4 linked regions of the Homo sapiens genome follow. The protein of the gene in region 3 purifies or fractionates together with the protein of the main gene of each other region. This does not show direct contact. Each region holds a gene or a part of one and is shown on either strand. Other genes may lie near its edges.

The links.
Region 1: the proteins of NDUFAF5 (region 3) and RAD51D purify together in Homo sapiens (affinity purification with mass spectrometry; 3 studies listed by BioGRID and IntAct, with this or other methods). This does not show direct contact.
Region 2: the proteins of NDUFAF5 (region 3) and PPM1E purify together in Homo sapiens (affinity purification with mass spectrometry; 3 studies listed by BioGRID and IntAct, with this or other methods). This does not show direct contact.
Region 4: the proteins of NDUFAF5 (region 3) and HBB purify together in Homo sapiens (affinity purification with mass spectrometry; 3 studies listed by BioGRID and IntAct, with this or other methods). This does not show direct contact.

The regions. Positions count from the first base shown.
Region 1 is NC_000017.11:35,095,840-35,102,868, reverse strand, and holds part of RAD51D (DNA repair protein RAD51 homolog 4), read left to right. Parts: intron 1-1,503; coding exon 1,504-1,668; intron 1,669-1,832; coding exon 1,833-1,916; 3' UTR 1,917-7,029. UniProt on the Homo sapiens protein: Involved in the homologous recombination repair (HRR) pathway of double-stranded DNA breaks arising during DNA replication or induced by DNA-damaging agents. Bind to single-stranded DNA (ssDNA) and has DNA-dependent ATPase activity.
Region 2 is NC_000017.11:58,975,825-58,982,853, reverse strand, and holds part of PPM1E (protein phosphatase 1E), read right to left. Parts: intron 2,881-7,029; coding exon 1,823-2,880; 3' UTR 1-1,822. UniProt on the Homo sapiens protein: Protein phosphatase that inactivates multifunctional CaM kinases such as CAMK4 and CAMK2. Dephosphorylates and inactivates PAK. May play a role in the inhibition of actin fiber stress breakdown and in morphological changes driven by TNK2/CDC42.
Region 3 is NC_000020.11:13,780,645-13,788,045, forward strand, and holds the start of NDUFAF5 (arginine-hydroxylase NDUFAF5, mitochondrial), read left to right. Parts: upstream 1-4,383; 5' UTR 4,384-4,424; coding exon 4,425-4,646; intron 4,647-5,705; exon of another isoform or gene 5,706-6,667; coding exon 6,668-6,708; intron 6,709-7,401. Other genes in the region: ESF1 homolog, read right to left, coding at 1,860-2,496. UniProt on the Homo sapiens protein: Arginine hydroxylase that mediates hydroxylation of 'Arg-111' of NDUFS7 and is involved in the assembly of mitochondrial NADH:ubiquinone oxidoreductase complex (complex I, MT-ND1) at early stages. May also have methyltransferase activity.
Region 4 is NC_000011.10:5,224,935-5,231,090, forward strand, and holds HBB (hemoglobin subunit beta), read right to left. Parts: upstream 2,138-6,156; 5' UTR 2,088-2,137; coding exon 1,996-2,087; intron 1,866-1,995; coding exon 1,643-1,865; intron 793-1,642; coding exon 664-792; 3' UTR 530-663; downstream 1-529. UniProt on the Homo sapiens protein: Involved in oxygen transport from the lung to the various peripheral tissues. LVV-hemorphin-7 potentiates the activity of bradykinin, causing a decrease in blood pressure.

The sequences.
Region 1 (7,029 bases), on a different chromosome or scaffold from region 3:
AGCTTCATATAAATGGATCTTTTTGCTATTGAAGTAACTTTTTCTGCTTATGAGGTAGTTTTTTTAAAGTCTGCATGCTTCTCATAGAAAGGATAGAAAATAAATATGATTCAAATTTGTCATCAATCTCCACATCCACAGAAACCATATTAATATTTTTACATATCTCCATACAATACTTTTTCTGCATATTTACTTATACTTTTAGCCAACTTTCTTTCTTTCTTTTTTTTTTCTTTTGAGATAGGGTTTCGCTCTGTTTCCCAGGCTGGAGTGCAGGGGCACAATCACAGCTCACTGCAGCTCGACCTTCCAGGCTCAAGCAATCCACCCGCCTCAGCCTCCCAAAGTGTTGGTATTACAGGTGTGAGCCCACACTTAACCAGCTTTCTAACTAAACTAACCTCATGAAAAAATAAAAAAAAATAGGCCAGGTGCGCTGGTTTATGCGTGTAATCCCAGCACTTTGAGAAGCCAAGGCTGGTGGATCACTTGAGCCCAGGAGTTCGAGACTAGCCTGGGCAACATGGCAAAACCCCACCTCTACAAAAAATACAAAAACTAGGTGGCCTTGGTGGCAGGAGAATTGCTTGAGCCTGGGAGATCGAGGCTGCAGTGAGCTGTGATCATGCCACTGCACTCCAGCCTGGGCAACAGAGCAAAACCTCATCTCAAAAACAAACAAACCAAAACAACAACATAAAAAATACCATCTGAGTCCATTTCCTATGTTTTAAAATAGATTTTTTAGAAATGTAATTTTTAGCAGCTATATATTTTTTCCAGTTTCTTTTATTGTGGTAAAATACATGTAACATAAAATTTACTATCTTAACCACTTTAAGGTATACAGTTCGGTGGTGTTAAATACATTCATAACGCTGTACAACCATCACCACCATCCATCTCTATAACTCTTCACCTTGTAAAACTGAAACTCTGTACCCATTAAAAATAACTCATTTTCCCCTTCCCCAGCCCCTGACAACCACCATTCTACTTTCTGTATCTATGCTTTTTGACTACTCTAGGAACCTCATATACATGGAATCATATGGTATTTACTTTTTGTGACTGGAGTATTTCACTTAGCATAATGTCCAGAAGGTTCATCCACCTTGTAGCATGTGTCAGACTTTCCTTCCTTTTAAAGGCTGAGTGTCTGGGCGTGGTGGCCCACACTTGTAATCCCAGCACTTTGGGAGGCTGAGGCTGGCGGACTGCATGAGCTCAAGAGTTTGAGACCAGCCTGGAAAGCATGGTGACATGTGCCCCATCGCCTTCTGGTTCGGGTCAAACCTGAGGCATCGAGATTTAGTGGAAAGAGCGGGGCACAAGTCAGGAGGCCCAGGTTCTAGTTCCAGACCTGCCATTAGGTTTTGTAACCTTGGGGAAGTTATTTCTCTGTGCTAGGCCTCTGTTTTCCTCTCCGTAAAATGAAGCGGTAGTAATCGATGTCCTCTATACTAGCATTATGGATCTGTAAGTCTGTTTCTGCTGCAGGTGACCAACCACATAACTCGAGACAGGGACAGCGGGAGGCTCAAACCTGCCCTCGGACGCTCCTGGAGCTTTGTGCCCAGCACTCGGATTCTCCTGGACACCATCGAGGGAGCAGGAGCATCAGGCGGCCGGCGCATGGCGTGTCTGGCCAAATCTTCCCGACAGGTGAGCCAGCCCCAGGAAGATGCCAGTAATCTTGGGCCCTGGAGGGTGGTTTCCATACCCACAGATGTCTTCGAGAAGAACTCTTTAGAGGCTGAAACCTTGCAACTAAAGAAGCTACCCACTTGGGTTGCTTAACTCCACTGACTCCTTACTTCTTCTTCCAGCCAACAGGTTTCCAGGAGATGGTAGACATTGGGACCTGGGGGACCTCAGAGCAGAGTGCCACATTACAGGGTGATCAGACATGACCTGTGCTGTTGTTTGGGAAACAGGGAAGCATTGGGGACCCCTCCCAACTTTTCTTCCCAGTAACGCCTGCTGTTTACTGCCACCTGGCACTGGTGACTACAGACGTTCTCAGGCTGGCCAGAAGAGACATCTTGGGTTCCTTGGCCTCACTCTCTGTAAGCATATAAACCACAGGCGAAAGAGGATGCTGCATTGCGAGGACCCAGAAATTCATACTGGTGCCACGTTTCCTTCCCTTATTTCTAACGTGTATGTTTCTGGTGGAAACCAAGTTCACCCTGGCTGGGAGCATCTCTGATGAGGCATGCTGGCGACTGGATGGATAATCCTGTGCATCACCATTGTGTCCTGTGCTCCCTCCTAGCGCAGTGGCCAAGCCGGGAAAGCCTCTAACTTGCCTTTGCTGCTGCTGCCTTTTTTTTCTTTTGTCTCTGCCTTTCCATTTGTTAGATGGGGGCCCACTCTTCCTTAGCTCTGTCTCTGAGTTACTGGGTGGAAATAAGCTTATAAATGAAATACTCTTCTTCATCTCTGTTTTGCTCTTAAAAATATAAAAAGGCAATTCCCCGAGCCCTAGAGCCACCTGATTTCCCCTTAGAAGGCTGTTTTTCAGTTTCCCCCAGTGAGGCCCAAAGAACAGTTTATTCCTCCTTTCCTCTTGCTGATTTGGTTTCAGACCTGCCTGCATCACCATGACTAGGTGAGAACGTGTGGGCTCGCTGCAGTTCCAGGGATATAATTTAACAGAAAGGGAGGGTATGACCTGCTCCTGGTGAATCCAGCCACTCATTTAATATGCATGGTGCCCTGTGGGGCCCCTCCACAGTACAGCATAACCAGAGGTGCTGAACCATGGCCTTGCCCATAAACAGACAGAGGAGAATTTGCACAGTAAATAGAGCCAGCTGGGAAAATTGATGCTGACGTAAATAATACATGGCAAATCTAGTCCTTTATGCAGAAATTCATTGCTGGTGGCTCCAAGATGCAATATAATTACACCTCTCTTCCTGCCAGCTGTACCACAGCTAGTGCCCTAGTGTATGAAATAATCCCTCTGTCTTTCACCAGCACTGTGGCCATCCGTCTGAGAGCCATGACCCTGGCTGGGAGGGGACGAAGACACCAGGGAATGGAAAATAAAAGGAAAAGTACAGAAATGATCAGGATTGGTTACTGGCCACATCTTTTAAAGGAAGGTCATCTTTCTTGGTTAGAGAGCCTGTTGTGTAATTAATCAGTTATGTCTTGGCTGCAGGAAAGGAGGGTCCGAGTTACACTCAGAAAGTAATGACATTTAGAGGTGATGAATGCAACAGGGATAGAATCATGGAGGATTGGGAAGGAGTGGCAAACTGGCACCAGGGTGTTGGATTCAGGACAGGGTTGGTAAGCCTAAGCCTGGGGGAATCCTAGCGCTTGCTTTCACAGAAGACCTCAGGAGAAATTAATCTTCAGTATCTTTATACCATGGGTGATTGGCACATTCCTGCAACCACAGTAAGATGCAATACATGAAGCTGGAAATTGCAAATTCTTGCCACTCAAGGTACTATTTGGGCATCTTCAGCCCACAGCAGACATGACCAATCGGGCACAAGCACTCTTTTTTGTGGAAGTCAAAGTGTTTTTAGAAGTTTTTCTCAATATAGCACTCCAGGGGGCCACTACCAGTCAGTTGGAGTTGGTATTCAAGGTGGAGTCTGGTTGCCGTCTCTGCCCTGTTCCCATTATGTAGTGAGTTCAGGTACTTAATACCTAACTGAGGACCCTAGGACTGCAGTTTGAGATCATCTGGGGCCAGGCACAGTGGCTCACACCTATAATGGTAGCACTTTGGGAGCCTGAGGCGGGAGGATCACTTGAGCCCAGGAGTTTAACAGTTTAAAATCAGCCTGGGCAACATGATGAGACATCGTTTCTACAAAAAAATTTTTTAAATTAGCTAGGCATTGTGATGTGCACCTGTGGTCCCTGCTACTTGGGAGCCTGAGGCAGGAGAATCGCTTGAACCTTGGAGGTTGTGGCTGCAGTGAGCCCTGATCGCACCACTACACCCCAGCCTGGGTAACAGAGCAAGACCCTGTCTCAAGGAAAAAAAAAATCATCTGGCCCATCCTGTTACTTAACAGAGAAGGTACCTGAGGCTCAAAAAGGATGACTGACAGTCCTAGTGGCAGAATGGAGGTGGGATCTGGAACCCACAACTTGATTCCTAGGACTCTTTTTTTTTTAATTCCCACATTGGCTGGGTGTGGTGGCTCACGCCTGTAATCCCAGCACTTTGGGAGGCTGAGGTGGGTGGATCACCTAAGGTCAGGAGTTCCAGACCAGCCTGACCAACATGGTGAAACCCCGTCTGTACTAAAAATACAAAAATTAGCCAGGCATGGTGGCCCATTTCCTGTAATCCCAGCTACTCAGGAGGCTGAGGCAGAATCGCTTGAACCTGGGAGGCGGAGGTTGCAGGGAGCTGAGATGGCGCCACTGCACTCCAGCCTGAGCGACAGAGTGAGACTCCGTCTCAAAAAAAAAAAAAAAATGCAAAAATTAGCCAGGCGTCGTGGCGCATGTCTGTAATCCCAGCTCCTCGAGAGGCTGAGTGGGGAGGATCACTTGAGCCCAGGAGGCAGAGGTTGCAATGACCTGCGATCATGCCACTGCACTCCAGCCTGGGCAACAGAGACTCTGTTTCAAAAAGAAAAAAAAAATCCCCACATTTTATTTAATTTTCAGTCCATACAGTTCTATTCCTGCTAGGGCTGTAACTCCAGCTGAAGGCACCACAGCTGTCACCCAAGGAGTTTCTGTGGCCATGGGAAGGTGTTGCATTCACTGCTACTTGAGACCACCACGTGACATTCCTGCAGGCTGTGCCCCTCACAGCCAGCTTCATCCTTTGGCTCCTCCTAGACCAGGACTTTGTCTTGCCTGCCTGCTGCCACTGCACTCTGTTCCGGCCACACCACACTGTGCAGTCCCCTGGTAGGACTTGGGCTAGGCTGGCTCTCCTGTCCAAGTGCCTTTTGCTCCCTTTGCTTATGTGTCTGTCTCTGCCCAGCTCCCACTGTGTCTGGTGCACACCCACCCTGACATCCTTTTTTATGCCTCAGCTGTGATCTAGATAGATGCTTACAGTAACTTCCCTGTATTAGTTATTCACTTGTACTTTCTGTTCACGTGTCTGCCTACAGGCTCCCACTTTTTGTCACTTTTTCTCTTTATACATTATGGAAGCTCAGTAATGATTAAATAGATGAATGATGTTTTAAAAATATATTTTAAAAAAGCAAAGGACTGGCTCTATCTCAGGGGTTCCTTCCATAAAGCGTCAACTTTCAATTTCCCCTGCGGGGGTGGTTTGAGACCTGAGGGCACTCTCTAGTTCTTAGGAAAAAAATATACATATACATATACATATATATATATATATACACACACACACACACACATATACACACATATATATACATATATATACACACATATATATATATACACACATATATATACACACATATATATACACATATGAGCCAGGCGCAGTGGCTCACGCCTGTAATCCCAGCACTTTGGGAGGCCAAAGTGGGCGGATCACAAGGTCAGGAGTTCAAGACCAGCCTGGCCTATATAGTGAAACCCTGTCTCTACTAAAAATACAAAAATTAGCTGGGTGTGATGGCTCGCATCTGTAATCCCAGCTACTTGGGAGGCTGAGGCATGAGAATCGCTTGAACCTGGGAGATGGAGGTTGCAGTGAGCCGAGATTGTGCCACTGTACTCTAGCCTGGGCAACAGAGTGAGACTCCATCTAAAAAATATATATATATGTTCACACCCACATCATTGAGTCCCCAGAGTGTCTTCTTACATATCTTTTTACAGGGGACTATTGTATGCCCTTCGTCTGACATCAGATGAAATTAATGTTGAGATCCTACTATGTGCTAGCACTTGATGGCCTTAATTAAAAATCAGGCATTTGAATTCCCAAGGACTCAGGCAAAGGTCCATGTATCATTAAGGCTGCAAGTAACAAAACCTAGGCTTAAAGAAGTGTAAATACTAGGGACACTTATTTATATTTATTTCTTTTATGTTTCAAGACAGAGTCTTGCTCTGGAGTGCAGTGGCACAATCACGGCTCACTGTACCCTCTACCTCCCAAGCTCAAGTGATCCTCCCACTTCAGTCTCCCAAGTAGCTGGGACTACAGGTGTGTGCCACCACACCCATCTAAGTTTTGTATTTTTTGTAGAGACGGGGTCTCTGTACGTTGCCCAGGCTGGTCTTGAACTCCTGGGCTCAGGTGATCTACCCGCCTTGACCTCCCAAAGTGCTAGGGATTACAGTCATGAGCCACCATGCCTGGCAGGGACACTTATTATCTCTGATAACAGGAAGTCTGAGGTTTGTTAATTTAGTGGCTCATTGTCAAATGGCGTAGAGCCTTTGCATCCTTCTGCTCTGTTCTTTTATGTTGGTTTTGTCTTCAAGCTTGTTCCCCTTATGAAAGCCTGGCTGCAGCCATTTTGAGCATCAATCCAGACGTGACAATATCTACAGGCAGGAGAAGGATCGCCTCCTGTGTGTCCTTTAAAGAACAAGGTGTTAACATGCCAGGAACTGTGGCTCCTGACTGTAATCCCAGTAATTTGGGAAGCCAAAGTAGGAGGATCGCCTGAGGCCAGGAGTTCCAGACCAGCCTGGGCAACATAGCAAGACCCTATCTCTATAAAATAAAATAATAAAAATTAAGAAAACAAGGTGTTAAAAGACAAAATTAAAGCAAATATAGTTTTGCAGATTGTAATTGACTTTTATTTGCAATTCTAGAATTGGGCTGCCCTCAGAACCAGGACAGGTTCAGAGAATTCCAGAGCTGCAACATAGTCTGAAAGCATTTATGGTCAGAAAACAGAAATGAGATACAAAGACAACTAATTGGTTACAGCTCTGCCTTTGCCTTATTTGAAAATGGTTTGAATAGTTGGCTGCCTGGAACCCACTGAAGCTGATGATGTGATTGGCTGAGCCTCAGCAATCTGTTACAAAAGTATACTCCTAAATTAGGTTTTCAGTTAGTTTGCATACTAAGGCTGCAGTTTGTTA
Region 2 (7,029 bases), on a different chromosome or scaffold from region 3:
TATGAGTGAGGACCATGTGTGGGGCAAAGCCTCAGAATGATGAAAAGGTTCCGGCACTATAGTTGGGGCCATGTTGACTCCTTTTCAACCATTTGTCACAGACGTGAGAAGAAGAAATGACTTCAAAATCAAGAGAAAACAAATACTGAAAGTCTCTACTTACATCCAAATTTTAAAAAATAAAATCTGTAGATTAACAATCTGATCATTGCTAAAGTGAAGCTGTTTTTGTCTATTTGATATAGCTATACTGGTATCCAAAATATGCCAGTCATCTGTGTCTTTAAAATTCAGAGATTTTAGTCCTCTGTTATGGGCCTGGGGAACGTGTACTATCCTATAAACACATGATTAGGCGGGGGACACTTCTTAGCGAGAGCACTCACCCTTGTTAGTGAGCACTCCAGAGGGGCCACCCATAGGCATTGGCCAGGCTGGTCTGCTGTTGACTAGGGGAGGGTAACACTAAGACATTCGTGACTCTTAGAGAATCAGAGGCTGCTTCACTGAATGAATGAATCTGATAGTTTGTTGTCTTTAGTTGACAACATGCTTCTAACTAACTTGAAACTGCAGAAATAGCAAAAAGCAGACAGTTTCAAAATATCAAATATAACTAAATATTGAAATGAAAAGCACACGTCCTGTCTCTGCAGTCTGAAGCTACATGTAAGCAGGACACTCATGTGTCTTCCAATTACAACTAAACAGACCTGGCTGTCAGTAATCTGCATTCTCAGTGGCCTCTGGGCTCACTTTAGACAATACTTTCAGCCTCCTTCATTCCAATTACTTCACTACCTTGGGGGAAATAATTTTAGAGAAGATAAAAGTAGCATTTTTCATTCTCTAAAATCACTTTGTATTTTATAGTAGTACATGCCTTTGCTGTCTGAACTAAAAAAAGACAAAATATAGAAATGCTTTTGATTTTCTTTGTAAATGGTATTTTGACTCTATAGTGTATTTGTACCTGACATCATCTCCGTTAAAGCAGTTTTATTCCTGAGATGAGGGTACAGTGGAAAACACATTAGCATCATAGATTAAAACCAGTTGACAGCGGTCTCCTAAAATGCTAAATAATAAAAATTTCCACCAAAAGCACCATAACAGGTTATGAAACTCCCAAATAACTACAGCCCTAGGAAATATTTTTTAATTAAAAAAAGTTCACAATCTTTTATGTTACAGGAAAAAAATCCGTAAATCTTTCTGACTATAAACCGCCTCACAAGTCTGAGAATATGACACTTTTACACTGATTTACCACTTTCATTGTTATCAGTTAAAATCCATATGGCTTTTAGTCTTTTACCTACCCAAAAAGGTGAGGGGGCAGGGGGTTCCTTCATAGTGCCCAGGATTTTGAGGGACATTTCCCAACCAAATGTAATTCAGCATTAAATTTTCCACAGATAAATTAGGCACATCAGACCAGATTTCAACTGCATTGAGATTTCAACACTGTATATCCTGACTGAAATAACTAACTTGAAAGCTTCCACTAGTGACTGAAGGGATGGTGGGAAGGGGGTTGTGTATCTAGTGACATGAAGGATGGTGGGAAGGGGGTTGTGTATTGGTGTCGAGACACATCACAGGGACCAGCTGTGTAATTTTGCAAGTGAAACTGCCAATACTTCTTTTTAGATTGAAAACACTGTACTTTGAGTTTCCTAGAGATCTATTTACATTTAAGAATTGAGCCATCCATGGATTCATAATGAAGCACATATGTTTTAGAAATGTCTACCTTGTTTCTACTCTGATAGTGGTATTTTTATTGGGGGAGAGCTAGCTAACCTACTTGAAAGAAAAATTATTCTATTTTATAGCTCCAAGGAAGATCTGGGCATGGAATATCATGAGTCTTTCTGAGCTTCCTCATGTTTTCACTGTACCCTTTCCAACTATTTTGCCTCCATGGCAGAGAACTTCTTATCCTATTTCTCTTCCCACTTCCAGTAAGTGAGGACAGGCTAGTGCCTATTTTGTGGGAAGGCTCTTGAGCAGAGAGAAATGAATAAAACTTTGGATTAAACCTGAATCTGTGCCACTTCTTTGAGTAGTGGTGGCGTAAATGAGACAATCTAGAAACTCTGTTTCCCGGGGATTTGAACTGTTCATTTTCCAACCCTGAACAGACAGGAGACAAGCTCTGCATTCTGTATATCTGCTCCCCTGTTGAACCCAAATTGAAAGCAGTGGGAAACTCTCCAGCACCACTCCATTCAGGCAATGATGACTGAACTGATTTTTTCTCCATCATTAACTCATTAATAAGATTTGCTTTCTTTGGTGCACCAGGACCAAACATCTCAACTGGTAGCAAAAACTGGGCACTGTGAGGTTTGCTTGCTTCTATTTGTGTGAGATCTAGGTAGCCTGGGTCTTCCAGCACGTTGATTTGGGACCCTGGGCTCAGGCTAGTTCTATCAGTGAATGAATCCACACGCCCATCATAGCCTAGGTCGGCTGGTGCTGAGCACTGGTGCTGAGGCCAAGGGCGTTTGCACTCTCCATGATTCTCCTTATCATCCCCACCATCTTCTTGCCCTCCTTGAAAAGAGTTCTCTGTCCAATCTGATTCCTCACTAACATTTACAGCTTTGTTCATGTCCCTCAGGAATACCACAATAACCGTGATGTTATCACTTGACCCAGCATCACGAGCTGATGCCACTAATTTGTGGGCAACCATGCTGCTGTCTCCATTATTCTCTTTCAGGTGGTCGGACACAACTTTCACTGCCTCATCAGGGTTCACGGTGTCATAGAAGCCATCACAGGCCAGAATGAGGTAGTCTTCGGTCCCATCCAGAACAGTGGAGGCAGAATCTGCATCCCCACAGATATATGGCTTATGTTCAGCATCTCCTGCGGGAAGCAGAGTGTAGGGGCATCATTAGCATTTGTTTTACCTTGCATGCTAAGAACGTTTATGACCAATGCCATGACTCTGATCACAGCTTACTGGATTGTGAACTGACTTGACTGGAAAGAATTTATAAAATAGTTTTTGACAAAATACTTAAATTCTCTGGTAATCAGATCTGCTTACTCCTTACTCCCAGTTAAATAATTGCTAGTTACTGGGCATAAGTCCTTACCTAGCTTAGACTCTGAATCTGCACCTCTGGCTATGATTTAGGCTTAGCTGAGTGTAACAACAATGTCAGATCTAAAAGTTTGTTGCTGTACTGAAAAATTCAGTACACTGTGTAGGAAGACATGGTTGATTCAGTAGATCTGTTCTTTTGCAGGTGGTTTTGATTTAATTGAAATTTGAAAACAAGCCCACATTGAAAGAAGCAAACCAAAGCTCTGATCATTCTCTTCATTAAATAATTTTTGTTCTATTCTTGTTTAGAAATCAATAAATAGCTTCATGCTGCGAGCACGAAGGAAGGTTTGAGTTACACGAGATTTTATAAATCAAGTCTAACTCCCTTAAGCCAGGAGGAGTTATGTGGCTGACCCAAGGCCTCACACATGGGAGCTGAATGCAGTTTTCTTGATTCCCAACCCACTTGGCTTTCTATTTTTTAGTGGTGCTTTACCTGTAACTTCTAGAGAACAGACAAAATGTATGGCCATTTTTCTCTTATATTTAGAGACTGCCATATTCTTCATATGGCTCTGCTCATCGCCCCACTTCTGTCTTTATTGTTATTGTGCATTTCCCCACTCATTAACAACTGTGAGAACCCAAGGTCTTTCTGGGCCTTTCTCTCTTCCTTTTCTTGCTTAGCTTCGTCCTCTCACAGAATGACATCTGAGCTGGTCCTGAAGGGTAAGTTAGTTATCACCAGGCAGAGAAGTTGCCTCAATTGAGGGAACAGGATAAGCAAAGGCAGAGGCAACTGTTAGGGAGTAATGTACAGTTGGAGAGTAGGGTGCTTGGGGTAGGAGCGAGACTGCAGACCTTGGGACCACACTAAACTAGGTTTCTATCACCAGACTACTGAGATAATTGATCATTTAGGGCTTTCAGATCCAGAGCACTTCCAAATCCATTCATTGTTTACATTGATTACATTCCTTTAGGTACCTTGTGAGAGTGCAGCAAAAGGGTCCTTAGCCTATGAGGTAACCAAATAGCTTATGACTACAACAAGGGACTCTCAATTCACTTTTTTATTTTTATTTTTATTTTTTGTCGCCCAGGCTGGAGTGCAGTGGCACAATCTCGGGTCACTGCAGCCTCTGCCTCCCAGGTTCCAGCAATTCTCCTGCCTCCGCCTCCGGAGTAGCTGGGATTACAGGCGTACGCCACCACACCTGGCTAATTTTTATATTTTTATTAGAGACGGGGTTTCACCATATTGGCCAGGCTGGCGTCGAACTCCTGACCTCTGATAATCTGCCTGTGTCGGCCTCCCAAAGTGCTGGGATAACAGGCATGAGCCACCGCATCTGGCCTCTCATTCACTTCTTTACAAAAAAATAAAAACAAAACCACACACAGGGTACTGAGCAATAATTCCTAGAGTAGGGTATCATAAATCATCATTACATAGTATTATAAAAACAAGAAATAAACTCCAGATATTTACAAAGGGCTTTACTGTATAGCAGTGGCATATTGCTTAGTGGTTAAGGACACCAGCACTAGTGTCAGACTGCCTGGGTCCAAATCCTAGCTCTTCTACTTGTCACCTACACAACTCTCATCAATTACTATCCTTTCCATTGCACTAAAACCGAACTTTTTGACTCAGGGAATATTAAAATGAAGATAAACTCACTTGAGTAATCTGACTATATATTCATTATTTCTAGTATCTGTTATAGGTTCTCTTTGACACAAGAAAGTTGGCCAGGCGCATGCCTGTAATCCCAGCACTTTGGGAGGCCAAGGCGGGAGGATACTTGAGGTCGGGAGTACGAAGCCAGCCTGGCCATCATGGTGAAACCTTGTCTCTACTAAAAATACAAAAATTAGCCGGGCCTGGTGGCATGCATGCAAAGTCCCAGCTACTCAAGAGGCTGAGGCAGGAGAATTGTTTGAACCCAGGAGGCAGAGGTTGCAGTGAGCCCAGATTGCGCCACTGCACTCCAGCCTGGATGACAGAGGGAGACTCTGTCTCAAAAAAAAGTTTCTTTCCAACATTTAACATCCCTGTTTAATCCTCAAATAGGCTAGAAAGCTCATTAGGAACCCTATGGATAACTCTGCTAGAACCAATGTGGGCACATGCCCTATCTAGCAGGTTGCATGATTAGATACACAGAGCAACAAATAATTAATATAATTACCTGAGTTAGTATATCTATTAGGTAAGAAATTAGTCTTCGACATTATAAATGTTCATTTCACTCCTTCCATTCACAAACACAACCTCTCATCTTACTCATATCTAGGCTCTTCTCCATTCATTCATTCATTATTTCTTTTTTTTTTTTTTTTGAGACAGAGTCTCACTGTGGCCCAGACTGGAGTGCAGTGGTGTGATCTCAGCTCATTGCAACCTCCACCTCCCGGATTCAAGCAATTCTCCTGCCTCAGCCTCCCAAGTAGCTGGGATTACAGGCACGCACCACAATACCCAGCTAATTTTTGTGTTTTTAGTAGAGACAGGGTTTCACCATGTTGGTCAGGCTGGTCTTGAACTCCTGACCTTGTGATCTACCCACCTGGGCTTCTCAAAGTGCTGGGATTCTAGGTGTGAGCCACCGCGCCCAGCCCTCATTCATTATTTCTTACAGGAGTCAAAACCATCTTTCCCAAGCATGCTTTTGATTTAATCAACTTCACTTATATGCTAAGGTGCCTCCATAGCCTGTTAGAGCTCATTAAAACTCAATCTATTTAAGCAGAAAATGCAAAAATTTAAAAGATATTTAAAAATAAATAATAAATAAAATCCAATATGGGATTCAGTGTCCTTCACCAATTTACTAAAGTTCCCATCCCCTATTCTACCTGACTATATGATTATCATCATTATTATTTTTTGAATTCCGCCTCTAAAAATAAATGTGATCTGAGTCACACTGTTCCCAAAAATCTTGTTTTAGTGCTTCAATTAAAAGACTGCTGCAACTGTTAGTTTGGAACAGAACATACAAAGATTTGTACAGAGAAAATGCTGCCAAAGTTCTGGCTTTTCACCTGCTCTACTGTTGGGTGTCAAATTCATGACATTTCGCCCCCAAATTTGGTAGGAGGGCATGAATATCCATTTCATCGTAGAAATGGCAACATCCTTTTGTCTTCAACCTCTTCTCTCCATATGTTAGGAAACATATCATGCCTCTGTCAACTTTGGATCATAAATCTGAAGGGCTCATGGGGAGAAACTGTTGAAAACCTTTTCATTTTTATAAGTATCATTTCTTTCCTGAGTAGAGCTGAACTCTGCCCAGGAGTCCTTTTTCTTGTCCTTTTGCAGCCCCCCATTTTATTCCATGTGGTTTCCAATTCTTTCTCAAATTCTTCAACTCCCTCATCCACTTAAGCTACTGGATTTTGGTAAATGGCCTAATTTCCTACTTCAAAGACAAGTTGATCAGGCTTGAATTTTCTCAATTCCCCTCCCACCCTTGCCACACATGCACTGTTTAATCTGTAGAGATTCTCCCATATCAGCTACCATTTTCTCAGGGTAAGCAGTGTCCTTTTCCCATCCTAACAGTGAGCCTGTGCTGCTCTGGCTTCTCTACTCTCTCGTCTTCAATTTCTCCTCTACTTGCTCTCTTCCTTGTCCTACAAACATGCTCAAATCTAAAATCTCCTCGTCCTAAAAATAGAAACAATAAAAAGGAACCCTTTCCTGAATCAGCTTTTGCCTTAAGCCACCACACTATTTCCTTTCTCCCCTTCACCATCAAACTGCCCAAGAAACTAAATCTACACTTGCTCCTTTATGTTACTGCCTATTTCCAGTGCCAGATTGTTTGTTGATTAGTAGGTTTTCCCACCAACCAATCCATCTCATCAGTTGATACCCTCCTCCATATTCCTTTTTAGCTCTCCTCATCTCTGTAACAAACTGTATGAATGTCTCCCAGCCAGGCTCTTTC
Region 3 (7,401 bases):
TGGGCTATCAAGACCTCTTGGCCTATCAAGACCTCTCGGCCTATCAAGACCCCTCCTTGGATCCTGTAATCACAGGTCTGGCTCATGTGAACTACTACTGGTTTTCAGTTACATCTTCAACTATCAGCAACATCAACACTCAAAATTGCTTGCTGCTGGAGGTGACAAAAAATTTTAATTAGTAAACACGTAATGCAAACTAGAGCCAGCTGTCTCTCACCTAGTTCCAAACAATCATTTCTCGCTGCTACTCATTTTGGCCCTTCAAGACCTTATTATCTAATCAAACGGGACTACTGACCTCTTCTGAACATGCCCAATCACATCTTTGCTCAAAAAGTTCTTTCCATGTAGCACACTCTGGTCCTCAAACTTAAATTTTTCCACACCCCAAAGTAGTGCGTCCCCTATGAATTTTTCTGATTACCACATCTTGAGTGACTTCTTCCTCCAGATTTCCATGGCTTTCTGCTAAACATCTTTTACGGCACTTACTATTATTGCATTTTGTATTATGGTTCTGACTTTCTTCTACTTTAGATCTATATTGTCCAATATGGTAGCCAGTAGTCACATGTGGTAACGGAGCACTTGAAATGCGTTTTGTCTAACTTGACATTAATATGAAAATAGTATTAGTATGAAATGAGTAGAAAATGGGATGTAAAATATACATTGACTTTTATATTGATTACATATTGAAATAATTTTGATATATTGGGTTACATAAAATATATTATTTAAAATAATTTTACCTGTTTCATCTTACTTTTTAATGTGGTTACTAGAAAATCCAAAATTATGTATTTCTACTAGACAATGTTGCTTTAGACAGGGGCCACTGCACAAAGTTTAGCAGGCTGTTATCCGCACAGGGGCATTTATAAAAGGACAAGAAGGGCTAAAATCAAGGCCATCCTACACTCACCAAGCCATGCACTCTGGAGGGGGCTGTGTCTGCTCAGGGGCAAAAAATCTGTTGCTTCAAAGGCGCCATCTCTTCACCAAAGTGTGACCCCTGGGAGCTCTGTGTGTCCAGAGAGCATGCCTTTTTCTAATTTGCATAAAGGCATCATATAAGCTAGCGACAGCCCTGAGATGGGTGACGACGCCTTACTCATATTCTGCCTGCCACATACTAGTGGCAAAGCAACTGAACAAATTAATGAATGAGTACTCAACTCTACTTACCCTCTTATTTTATTTTTGAGACGGAGTCCTACTTACCCTATTTATTTTATTTTACTTTTGAGACAGAGTCTCGCTCTGTCAGCCAGTCTGGAGTGCAGTGGTGCAATCTCAGCTTATTGCAACCTCCACCTCCCAGGTTCAAGCAATTCTCCTGCCTCAGCCTCCCGAATAGCTGGGACTACAGGTGTGCGCCACCATGCCTGGCTATTTTTTTTTATTTTTAGTAGAGATGGGGTTTCACCATGTTGGCCAGGCTGGTCTTGAACTCCTGACCTCAAGTGATCTGCCCGCCTTGGCCTGCCAAAGTGCTGGGATTACAGGCGTGAGCCACCATGTCCGGCCTACTTACCCTCTTTAGACACATCTCTTCTTATCATGTGATGACATATAACACTTTATCTGGTTAGAGAATATAGTTCTCATTAGGGCTCACCACTAATCAAAATCACTGTTTAACTTCAAGATTCAAATTTTCATGTCTGTCTTCTAGCACCACATCAAAAATTAATAATCACTGCATATTTCTTTTATAGCTTTGTATTTCCAGATAAGCATTTGACCATTCCATAATACTATGAAAATACTTATTAATGTGTTTACATTTTTGAAAGATCAGTATAAAAATAAATAATGTAACACCCAAGAATCTCTAATTTTTTCCAACCTACCTGATTGCATTTCTCTTCTTGTCTTAGAACACTCGATTCTGGGAGATTTCACAATTTCAGAGGTGCCTGAGTCTAATGTCCTTTGTTTTTCTTCGAGAGAAGAGTCTGTAGTATGTTGAACAATGTTTTTTTTCTCTTTCTTATTTTTTTGTGTAAATTCTTTGCTATCCTTCTTCGGACTTATGTTTGAATCTATCTTAAATTTACATGAGGTTTTCATTTTTTTAATTCCTATAGAATTATCTAAATCAGTTTTATTTTCAGAACCCTTGTGATTAGCCTTCTTGGTTTCTTTCTTTTTCTCAACTAGATTTTTTGAATCGATTTCTTTTTTAGTCTGGGTTTTTTTCTTCTTTATTTTCTTTTGACTCAATGCTTTGCTATCTTCACCAGAGAGATTGGAATCAGAATCTGAAAGGTCGTAAAAACGCTTCAAATCCTCTGTAGTGCTATGGCTAATGGGGCGCCCTCTTTTATCCACGGCATAGTTCAACTTGAACTTCTTGTCATGAAACATGGCTCGAAATCTCTTGTCAATTTTGACTTTTCGATCCTTTTCTGGCATTTCCCAAAATCTCGGGTCCTTTGCAACCCGTCTAAACCGCTGGTCACTCATTATTTCTTGTTTGGATGACATTTTTAATTCTTAATCTCGACCAAATGCTTGAAGAAAACAAATACTGAAAAATAAAACAAATGTTTTAATGGTAATAATGGTTAGTACAATAATTAAATGTTTTAAAACACATTCACAATATATTCTAAGTTAATATATTCTAAGTTAAGTGTACATAAAATAGAGGTAACAAGTCTAATTTCATCTCTCCAACGTATTCTGGGTCACATGCAAAAAAGCAGAAACATACCAAAATATCCTCTTTCCATGACAGATCATTTAGAGAAATAAACTTAAGGTAGACAAAGCAGAATCCCAGGGCTTTATGGAGGGGAACAAATGTTTATTCATCCATTGCTCTCACTTAGAATTTCTATTTGTATACCAGTATGTGTTACTAATTGAAGGCAAATGTAGTTAAGATTCCCTAGGCCGAGTGCGGTGGCTCACCAGCACTTTCGGAGGCCAAGGCGGGCGGATCACTTGAGCCCAGGAGTTCAGGACCAGCCTGGGTAACATGGTGAATCCCCACAAGAAATACAAAAATGAGCCCGGCATGGTGGCGCGCGCCTGTAGTCCCAGCTACTTTGGAGGCTAAGGCAAGAGGATCACTTCCACCCGGGAGGTCTTGGCTAGAGTGAGCCTAACGGCACTACAGCACACCAGCTGGGGCAACAGAGTGAGACCCTGTCTACCAAAAAAAAGTAAGAAAGAAAGATTCCCTAGCCTCCGTTGGCCTCATTTGTTTCTTCACATTCTGGTCTCATTCTGCTTACTCCTTATCTCCGGCTACTGCCAACAAACAGCCTTTAGTTCTGTAAGACTAGCATTCTAACTAAACAGACCAAAATCAACTCAGGTTTAGCTAAGAAAGTTTCCTTTTTAAATTCGATCATCCTTCAAAAGTAATAAAAAGTTTAAAAATAAAAAGTAAATTTGAGTCTCCAGGTAAAGTCTCACACCAGTTAATAAATATCACTTCTTTCTATAATATCTGATTCTACCAGTGATGAAGGCCCAAGTGAGCTCATTCCCCCAAAACATACTAGAACATATACATATGTGTGTATAAATTAATATTGTTCCCTTGTGAAAAGTCTCCAATGGTTTAGCATCTCTGGATGGGAATTTTGCAAAGAGCCAAAAGTCGTTGATTATTAAGCAACCCCCCCCCAAAATGATTAAAAGGGCAATATTTCTTATTTAAAAATCAAGTCCTTTTAATTACACTAACTAGGAAAAAAAAGGAAGCTATCGCTGGTGCATTTACACATTTTTCGATGTATTACAGCACTTAACTCTCTGAGCAATCTTACGAGGTAGGTACCACCTCAACCAGGAGAAGTACTGCATGTATTGTAAATGTTTAGAAGGAAAGCACTCATTATATGTCAGATAATCCGAGAGAGGGGAAGGCGACCGGACCTCACTCCCGACACGCGCCCGCATCCCCGTAGCCCACCCTCCCCTTCTGCCCGCTCTCTAATTCGGAGAACACAGGGCTGGCCCCTGAACTAGGGTCTCCTTTCCACCTCCTGTACCGCAGGGGGGCAGCTAACAGACTGATTCGAGAAGCGACCCTGAAAAGGATCGATGAAGACTGAAGAATGAGACCGAAAAAGGCTCAGGAGGAAGGGGCAAAACCCCTCGCAGATCCGAAAGAGATCCTGTTAGAGACTAGTTTTTTCCCCGCGCCACACACACACACGCCCTCAAGCCCTTCATCTCGAGCTCTTCAACTCCAGTCCATCCCCACTCACCGTCCGCAGTCCTACCAAGCCTCACGTGGGGCTCACACCCACAATCCTCCGCGTGACGCTCCGCCGTAATGGCAAGCGAACTAGGCCAAACTACTTGCACGTTCCCTCGAGAAGATCTTTGGAGTAGACACAAAAGCCGCGCTGGCGCATGCGCACAAAAAGCGCCGGCAATTGGGGTCGCAGCTGGAGATGCTGCGGCCGGCAGGGCTCTGGCGCTTATGTCGGCGACCTTGGGCGGCGAGGGTCCCAGCGGAGAATCTTGGCCGTAGGGAAGTCACCTCTGGTGTCTCTCCCCGCGGTAGCACCTCGCCCAGAACCCTGAATATTTTCGACCGGGATTTGAAAAGGAAACAGAAGAACTGGGCAGCCCGGCAGCCCGAGCCGACCAAATTTGACTACCTGAAGGAGGAGGTGAGCCCGCGGGGCGGCGGGGCGGCGGGGCGGGCGACGCGGAGGCTTGTTTTCCTCTCCGCTAGTTCCGGCTAGGCCCCGAGCTCACCCCACCTAGCCGTCTGACCTTGACCAGCAGCCCTGCCTCTTTCGGCCTCTACTGTAATCACGCAAGGCCTGGCCTCGGATATTTGTAACATGCTTTCATTCATTCATGCATTCATTTCGGCAACGTCCTTGAGGCTGAAAGGACCTTATAGAGGCCTCCAGTGAAGCTCCGGAGAGGGAGAGAGTGGGAGAGAAGGTTAGGAGGACCCAAATCATCAGGGCCTTGCAGGATAGGGACTTGGGGTTTTCTTCTGTATCTGCACTGTCCAGCCAGTATGGTAACTGCCGGCCACACATGTGGCTGTTGAACACTTGAAAGGTGACTAGTCCAATTGAGATGTGTTGTAAAATACACACGAGTATAGTGACTTAGTATGAAAAAAGGATGTAAAATAGCTCATTAAGAGCTTTTATATTGATTACATGTTGCAGTGATTATTTTTGATATATTGGGTCACATGAAATATATTAAATATAAATTTAAATTTTTCAATTAAAATTTCTCTCGTTTTTACTTTTTTTCTTATGTGGCTACTAGAAAATTTGAAATTACATATGTGGCTCTCATGATTTTTGGTCAGCACTGCTCTAGGGGAATGTGAAGCTCTTGTTTTAATCAGTGGAGTGATCTGACTTATGTTTTAGGAAGATCAAATTAAGATTTCTGATTTGTCTTGGCTCGTTTGAGAAACCTTTCTCCCTGCCCAGGTGAGCCAGAGACTGAGGGTTTCTACTTTCAGGACACGCATTCTCAAGTTCAGGCCTCAGTAAATTTTTATTCAGGAGTGGAACAAAGTTGGAGTCAAGTATAATGCAACAAACAGTTATTGAACTCATAGCTTGAGCAGAGCTCTGTGCAAGTACAGGTCTGATCAGATGATTGACAGGGTGTCTTTCTCAGGAAGTCTTAGGCTGGTAATGTCTATTATAGGAAGTTTACTACCAATAAATTTTTTGTGTCTCACTTGTAAGGCATGGTGCACGTACTACACTGCTGATGTCGTGTACTTAGAAGATGTGCGCTCATAGCCCTTTCCCTCCAAAGAAAGCACCTGGACTACAACTTGATTGAGGCCTCGCCAATTTGTGAGACTAGAACAAATAAGATAAAGTATATGAGAGTTCTTTTTATAATAAACATAGGGTGTTCATATTAGGAATGACGTACAAGGTGGACTCCTGGGAAAAACATCTACGCTCCCTTCTCCCTTGCCCTTCTCTCAAAAAGCAGGTACATCTGTGTTTGGAACTTTTAAGTCCTAAGAGCAACTCTGGGGTGTTTATGAGGGAATGAGTGGAATGTGGGGAATACTAGACTCCCACGTCTTTATTGCTACCAGATGAAGCTAGGCCAGCAAAAGGTGGTGCTTACCTTATGACTCTTAAATTGGGATGGGATTGGAGCAGGGGAGGTGCACTTTCCTCAGATTTGGCTTTTTCTAACTTGCGAATGTCACTCAGAAAAGTTGTTCATTTATGAGTTCCACAAAATTTGTTAGTCATCAAATAATAGAGTTTTTCTTAAGTGACCACTTACATACTCATCTACAATAAACCCCAACTAACTAATTTTTCACTTTGTGTACCTCATGCTAATATCCGTGGACAGTAATGTGCCTGTTGTGTTCCTTTTGCTTTTCATCCTTGTGATCTTATGTCACATGGAATGTAAAGGCCACATATATATATGTGTGTGTGTGTGTGTGTATATGTATATTTTTAAGAATATTTAGTCTGGATTTCATGAAATTGACTTCTGAAATAATTTGCCTCAATTTTGTTTCCTGGTGGTTTGAGAAGAAAGTTCCTGTGGTGAAATTGAAAAGGGGATAAAGGGAAGTACTTATTTTAAAACATAAGTAACTTGTGGATTGTTGAATACTGGAAAAAGAGTGTTACTTCCCCGTTAACCTACGCCTCGTGTAATCCTTCAGGTTGGAAGTCGGATCGCAGACCGTGTATATGACATACCCAGGTAAGTGGTGGTGATCATAATACAATACCATCAACTTTTGAGTGGAAATTCAGGAGATTAAATGCTGAGAACTTGCTATCTGAAATGGCAGAACCTGGAAGAATTTACTCAGACTGGTGATTTAAATCACTCTGTAAGTCTCCTTTTTCTTGTCTGGAGAGCAAATGTTTTCTTCATTGTTGCCTGAAAAAAGAAAAGAATGTGTGGAAGCACAACTCGTATCTATCTCCAAGCCTGAATCCACTTGATTTGGCCAAAAGCAAGTAATAGAAAGATTGCTCCAAAAATGGAGATACTTAACAACATGCGAATTTTTAACATCCGAAGCCTCTGTACCTAACTGTGCCATATTGCCTGTGTTCATCATCAAGATATAGGGCATTAGGTAAATAAGGTTATCTACCACCAGGGATTCTCCAGCTATGTACTATAATTTTGACAAAGCTTTTTAAAAACAAATTGCAATGGGGCTCTTTTTGTTCCAGTTTTTCAGGAAGAATGTTCTTAGTAGATAAAATTTTAAGTTTTCTTATTATAGGTTTTTTTTTTTAAACCTATGGCCTACAATTAGATGTCTGTACCAATGTAGCATAACATAGTGTATTTAGAGGAGACAGCATGGCATGGAGGATAATAGTTCCAGCTCAGGATTCAGACTGACCGAATTCAAGTGTTGACTGCCCCTTGTTAGTT
Region 4 (6,156 bases), on a different chromosome or scaffold from region 3:
AGGCAGGGAAGAAGGGCTCACAGGACAGTCAAACCATGACCCCTGTTTTTCCTTCTTCAAGTAGACCTCTATAAGACAACAGAGACAACTAAGGCTGAGTGGCCAGGCGAGGAGAAACCATCTCGCCGTAAAACATGGAAGGAACACTTCAGGGGAAAGGTGGTATCTCTAAGCAAGAGAACTGAGTGGAGTCAAGGCTGAGAGATGCAGGATAAGCAAATGGGTAGTGAAAAGACATTCATGAGGACAGCTAAAACAATAAGTAATGTAAAATACAGCATAGCAAAACTTTAACCTCCAAATCAAGCCTCTACTTGAATCCTTTTCTGAGGGATGAATAAGGCATATGCATCAGGGGCTGTTGCCAATGTGCATTAGCTGTTTGCAGCCTCACCTTCTTTCATGGAGTTTAAGATATAGTGTATTTTCCCAAGGTTTGAACTAGCTCTTCATTTCTTTATGTTTTAAATGCACTGACCTCCCACATTCCCTTTTTAGTAAAATATTCAGAAATAATTTAAATACATCATTGCAATGAAAATAAATGTTTTTTATTAGGCAGAATCCAGATGCTCAAGGCCCTTCATAATATCCCCCAGTTTAGTAGTTGGACTTAGGGAACAAAGGAACCTTTAATAGAAATTGGACAGCAAGAAAGCGAGCTTAGTGATACTTGTGGGCCAGGGCATTAGCCACACCAGCCACCACTTTCTGATAGGCAGCCTGCACTGGTGGGGTGAATTCTTTGCCAAAGTGATGGGCCAGCACACAGACCAGCACGTTGCCCAGGAGCTGTGGGAGGAAGATAAGAGGTATGAACATGATTAGCAAAAGGGCCTAGCTTGGACTCAGAATAATCCAGCCTTATCCCAACCATAAAATAAAAGCAGAATGGTAGCTGGATTGTAGCTGCTATTAGCAATATGAAACCTCTTACATCAGTTACAATTTATATGCAGAAATATTTATATGCAGAGATATTGCTATTGCCTTAACCCAGAAATTATCACTGTTATTCTTTAGAATGGTGCAAAGAGGCATGATACATTGTATCATTATTGCCCTGAAAGAAAGAGATTAGGGAAAGTATTAGAAATAAGATAAACAAAAAAGTATATTAAAAGAAGAAAGCATTTTTTAAAATTACAAATGCAAAATTACCCTGATTTGGTCAATATGTGTACACATATTAAAACATTACACTTTAACCCATAAATATGTATAATGATTATGTATCAATTAAAAATAAAAGAAAATAAAGTAGGGAGATTATGAATATGCAAATAAGCACACATATATTCCAAATAGTAATGTACTAGGCAGACTGTGTAAAGTTTTTTTTTAAGTTACTTAATGTATCTCAGAGATATTTCCTTTTGTTATACACAATGTTAAGGCATTAAGTATAATAGTAAAAATTGCGGAGAAGAAAAAAAAAGAAAGCAAGAATTAAACAAAAGAAAACAATTGTTATGAACAGCAAATAAAAGAAACTAAAACGATCCTGAGACTTCCACACTGATGCAATCATTCGTCTGTTTCCCATTCTAAACTGTACCCTGTTACTTATCCCCTTCCTATGACATGAACTTAACCATAGAAAAGAAGGGGAAAGAAAACATCAAGCGTCCCATAGACTCACCCTGAAGTTCTCAGGATCCACGTGCAGCTTGTCACAGTGCAGCTCACTCAGTGTGGCAAAGGTGCCCTTGAGGTTGTCCAGGTGAGCCAGGCCATCACTAAAGGCACCGAGCACTTTCTTGCCATGAGCCTTCACCTTAGGGTTGCCCATAACAGCATCAGGAGTGGACAGATCCCCAAAGGACTCAAAGAACCTCTGGGTCCAAGGGTAGACCACCAGCAGCCTAAGGGTGGGAAAATAGACCAATAGGCAGAGAGAGTCAGTGCCTATCAGAAACCCAAGAGTCTTCTCTGTCTCCACATGCCCAGTTTCTATTGGTCTCCTTAAACCTGTCTTGTAACCTTGATACCAACCTGCCCAGGGCCTCACCACCAACTTCATCCACGTTCACCTTGCCCCACAGGGCAGTAACGGCAGACTTCTCCTCAGGAGTCAGATGCACCATGGTGTCTGTTTGAGGTTGCTAGTGAACACAGTTGTGTCAGAAGCAAATGTAAGCAATAGATGGCTCTGCCCTGACTTTTATGCCCAGCCCTGGCTCCTGCCCTCCCTGCTCCTGGGAGTAGATTGGCCAACCCTAGGGTGTGGCTCCACAGGGTGAGGTCTAAGTGATGACAGCCGTACCTGTCCTTGGCTCTTCTGGCACTGGCTTAGGAGTTGGACTTCAAACCCTCAGCCCTCCCTCTAAGATATATCTCTTGGCCCCATACCATCAGTACAAATTGCTACTAAAAACATCCTCCTTTGCAAGTGTATTTACGTAATATTTGGAATCACAGCTTGGTAAGCATATTGAAGATCGTTTTCCCAATTTTCTTATTACACAAATAAGAAGTTGATGCACTAAAAGTGGAAGAGTTTTGTCTACCATAATTCAGCTTTGGGATATGTAGATGGATCTCTTCCTGCGTCTCCAGAATATGCAAAATACTTACAGGACAGAATGGATGAAAACTCTACCTCGGTTCTAAGCATATCTTCTCCTTATTTGGATTAAAACCTTCTGGTAAGAAAAGAAAAAATATATATATATATGTGTGTATATATACACACATACATATACATATATATGCATTCATTTGTTGTTGTTTTTCTTAATTTGCTCATGCATGCTAATAAATTATGTCTAAAAATAGAATAAATACAAATCAATGTGCTCTGTGCATTAGTTACTTATTAGGTTTTGGGAAACAAGAGATAAAAAACTAGAGACCTCTTAATGCAGTCAAAAATACAAATAAATAAAAAGTCACTTACAACCCAAAGTGTGACTATCAATGGGGTAATCAGTGGTGTCAAATAGGAGGTTAACTGGGGACATCTAACTGTTTCTGCCTGGACTAATCTGCAAGAGTGTCTGGGGGAACAAAAAGCCTCTGTGACTTAGAAAGTAGGGGTAGGAGGGGAAAAGGTCTTCTACTTGGCTCAGATTATTTTTTTCCTCTAGTCCACTAAGAATACTGCGTTTTAAAATCATTTCCTTGATTCAAGTTCCTATTTCTCTTTATATTTTGTTTGTTTAAACCTCCTTTACTAAAATTTACTCTTCTTTCTCTATAGCTTCCCAACGTGATCGCCTTTCTCCCATCCCCCTGTACTTTTTCCCCTTGTACTAAATTAACTCCTCAGGTGAGGAAAAACTTTTGAAGTGCAGAGTTCTGCTTCCTGCTATTAAAAGATGTAATTAAAACAGCAAAGGTAGCAAGCATTTATGAGGTCAGCGTAGGGTCTCAGTGTTCCCTAAGGGCCCTGTCAGTCATCCTGAATCCTGCCCCTACCTGGAAACCCATGTCGGTTTAGTAAGGAAAGTGTTATACTTTTACTTTGCATGTTTCTCCTACTTCTTCCTTTCAGCTCTAACACTCTGAAACTACGATTACACAAAATAAAATAAAATAAAATAAAATAAAACAATAAAATGAAATAAAATTTAGGTTAACCAAAAGAAACTGGATCCTCTATTTCTAGTTATCAGAAGGAAATTTACAAATTTCTTATTTCCATTGCTTTATTCTCTTAAATGCTTTCTCTATTATTGCTAAATAAATAGAGATCTCTCACTTTTTCTACCTGTCTCAACCCTCATCAGGTACTTGTGAAAAAATCTCACTCTGATTATTCTCACACACGCAGAAAGTGTTTGGTTCTTCTATGGCTATCTGGAGCCTAGGTTAAAAAATTATGCCTATGTATGATTATAGAGGTAAGAGGGATAAAATTTAAGTATTTTCTTTTTATATTCATTCCTCTGTAAAAAACTAAAGCAATGAGGATCTAGGCACACGTGTATCCCTGAGAAAAGATTTCACATGTTGAATCCTGGGAAAAGACGTCTTTAAAATATTTTAAATGTTAAAACATGCAGATTTGACTTGGCTGTTAGATTTTGGATTTTATTTTATTAAATTTAAACCTGCATTAGCATTGTTTTAGATTTAGACAGTTTTCAAGACCCTGTTTCACATCCCTGATATAAGAGGCATGTATATGTGAAATAAAGTGTTCTGCGGAAGTTTGAATATGTCTTTTGCAAATATCCTGGGTCAAAGAAAATGCACAGACTTTATGAAATTATAATATAGGTTATATTTATAGTATTCTGAAAGACCAAAATTGTCAAAGCAAGAGCTTTGAAATCCTGATTGGCAGAAATTGTCACCTTCTTAAAGACTTACCCTACAACTTCTTATGCTCAGAAATAGTTTTCCTTTTTCTATTTTGTTTTCTTTTTTAAATGATGAACTATGGATCCTTCTCTTGTGTTGGCAACTGCTGCAGATACCATCATCCTGGCTTCAAGGCAGGGGTTGCTTTTCCAATGGTAGTTACTTAGTGTGACTAGAGTGTAACGCAGACTTTTCTTTCTATTACCCATAATACCCTGCAGGGACAAGGCTGCAAGCTATACTAAGACCATCAAAAGCCCAGGCATACCAGGCAAATAAGTTTCAAGAAGCAATAAATAGTGCAAATTTGGTTATGGTCAGAGCCTCAGTTTCAAATCTAAATCAGCATTCAAAGTTCCTGAAAAACTATTCAAGCTTACTGACATCTTCACTATTGTGAGCTTGCTTCTACTCTGTGAATGGATGCCACAGCAGGTGCAGGTCTATTCTACTTTTATTCCAGCCCCACTGACCACAACACACACACACACACACACACACACACACACACAAGTCCTCAAAAAAGAGACAGCGAGAGAGACAGAGGTCCATTTCCTTTACTCCAGTCTATTAATCTTTCTTAAGTCCTAATGTTTTATATCAGAATGGCCCTAGTCTGGGTATACTTAGAGGATGAATATTAACTTCCTCCATGAAAATCATGACACTCATCTATGGGAGTGTGGTTTTATCATTTGTTTCAAAAGCAGCACTTGACTAGAGTATTTTTATACATGCTCTACTGTTTAGTCTAAAATTCCCCAAGTGAGACATTTTAGCAATCTACTGTATATGTTCCTAGGTCAAGCACAGTCTAGCTACTTGCTACAGACTTCTCTCGCAGATACACAATCTCTCAGTAAACACAACTCAGCAGCTCTCAGAATTAATTAATTAAAATGAAATAAAAATGCTCCAAGAAAACCAGAACCCATAGAAACAAACCGCACACACACAAAATAGTTTGGAAATAGGATAGTTTAGTTCACTTTAAAAAGTTGTATTTCTTACCAAAAAGCAATAAAGTCAACATAGACAGAACTTTGCTAAAGTATATGCATAATTATTACAGAAAAATTTATATTTCAGTCTGCACCTTGTTCATTAATATTTCCTCCACTGGGCTCAGATTTTCATTCAGAATTAGCTTTTTTTTAACCTCATTAAGTGGGCCATGGTGTCAATTTATGGAGAGCAGAGGTACAGTCTTCAGATAAATTTGAGATTGCATCTCTTTAGAGGTAGAATCTTGGCTTCAGTCTGAACACCCTTTACAAACATGTAGGCATTAATTCAGAGGACTGCTCTGAAGCTCAAGAGATGGATGATTTAGGAGACTATTAGGCTTAATTCTCCTGACATTAAATTATTTTATTGAAAAATTTTCATGAACTCAAATTCACATTATTACGTCCTCTCTTCCCTTCCTCTCTCCCTCTCTTTCACACACACACACACCCTTTCATTCAGACATACTGAACATAGTTTATAAAGCAACGCCATAGTGAGAAAAGAAAAACAACCATTTGATAAATTATCAAATAAAATTAAAGCCAAATCTTGAGGAATTAATTCCATTCCTATACTTTGTTTTAACTTTCATTTTAAATTTGGGGGTACATGTACAAGTTATATAGGTAAATTGCATATCACTGGGTCTTGATGTACAGATTATTTCATCACTCAGTGATGAACTTAATACCCAATAGGTTCTTTTTCATCGTCTCCCTCTTCCCACCCTCAACCCTCAAGTAGGCCTGGGTGTCTGTTGATCTATTTTTTGTGTCCATGTGTATCATCATTTAGCTCCCACACTCCTAGACTCTTACAAAAGCTCTACTCTAACAA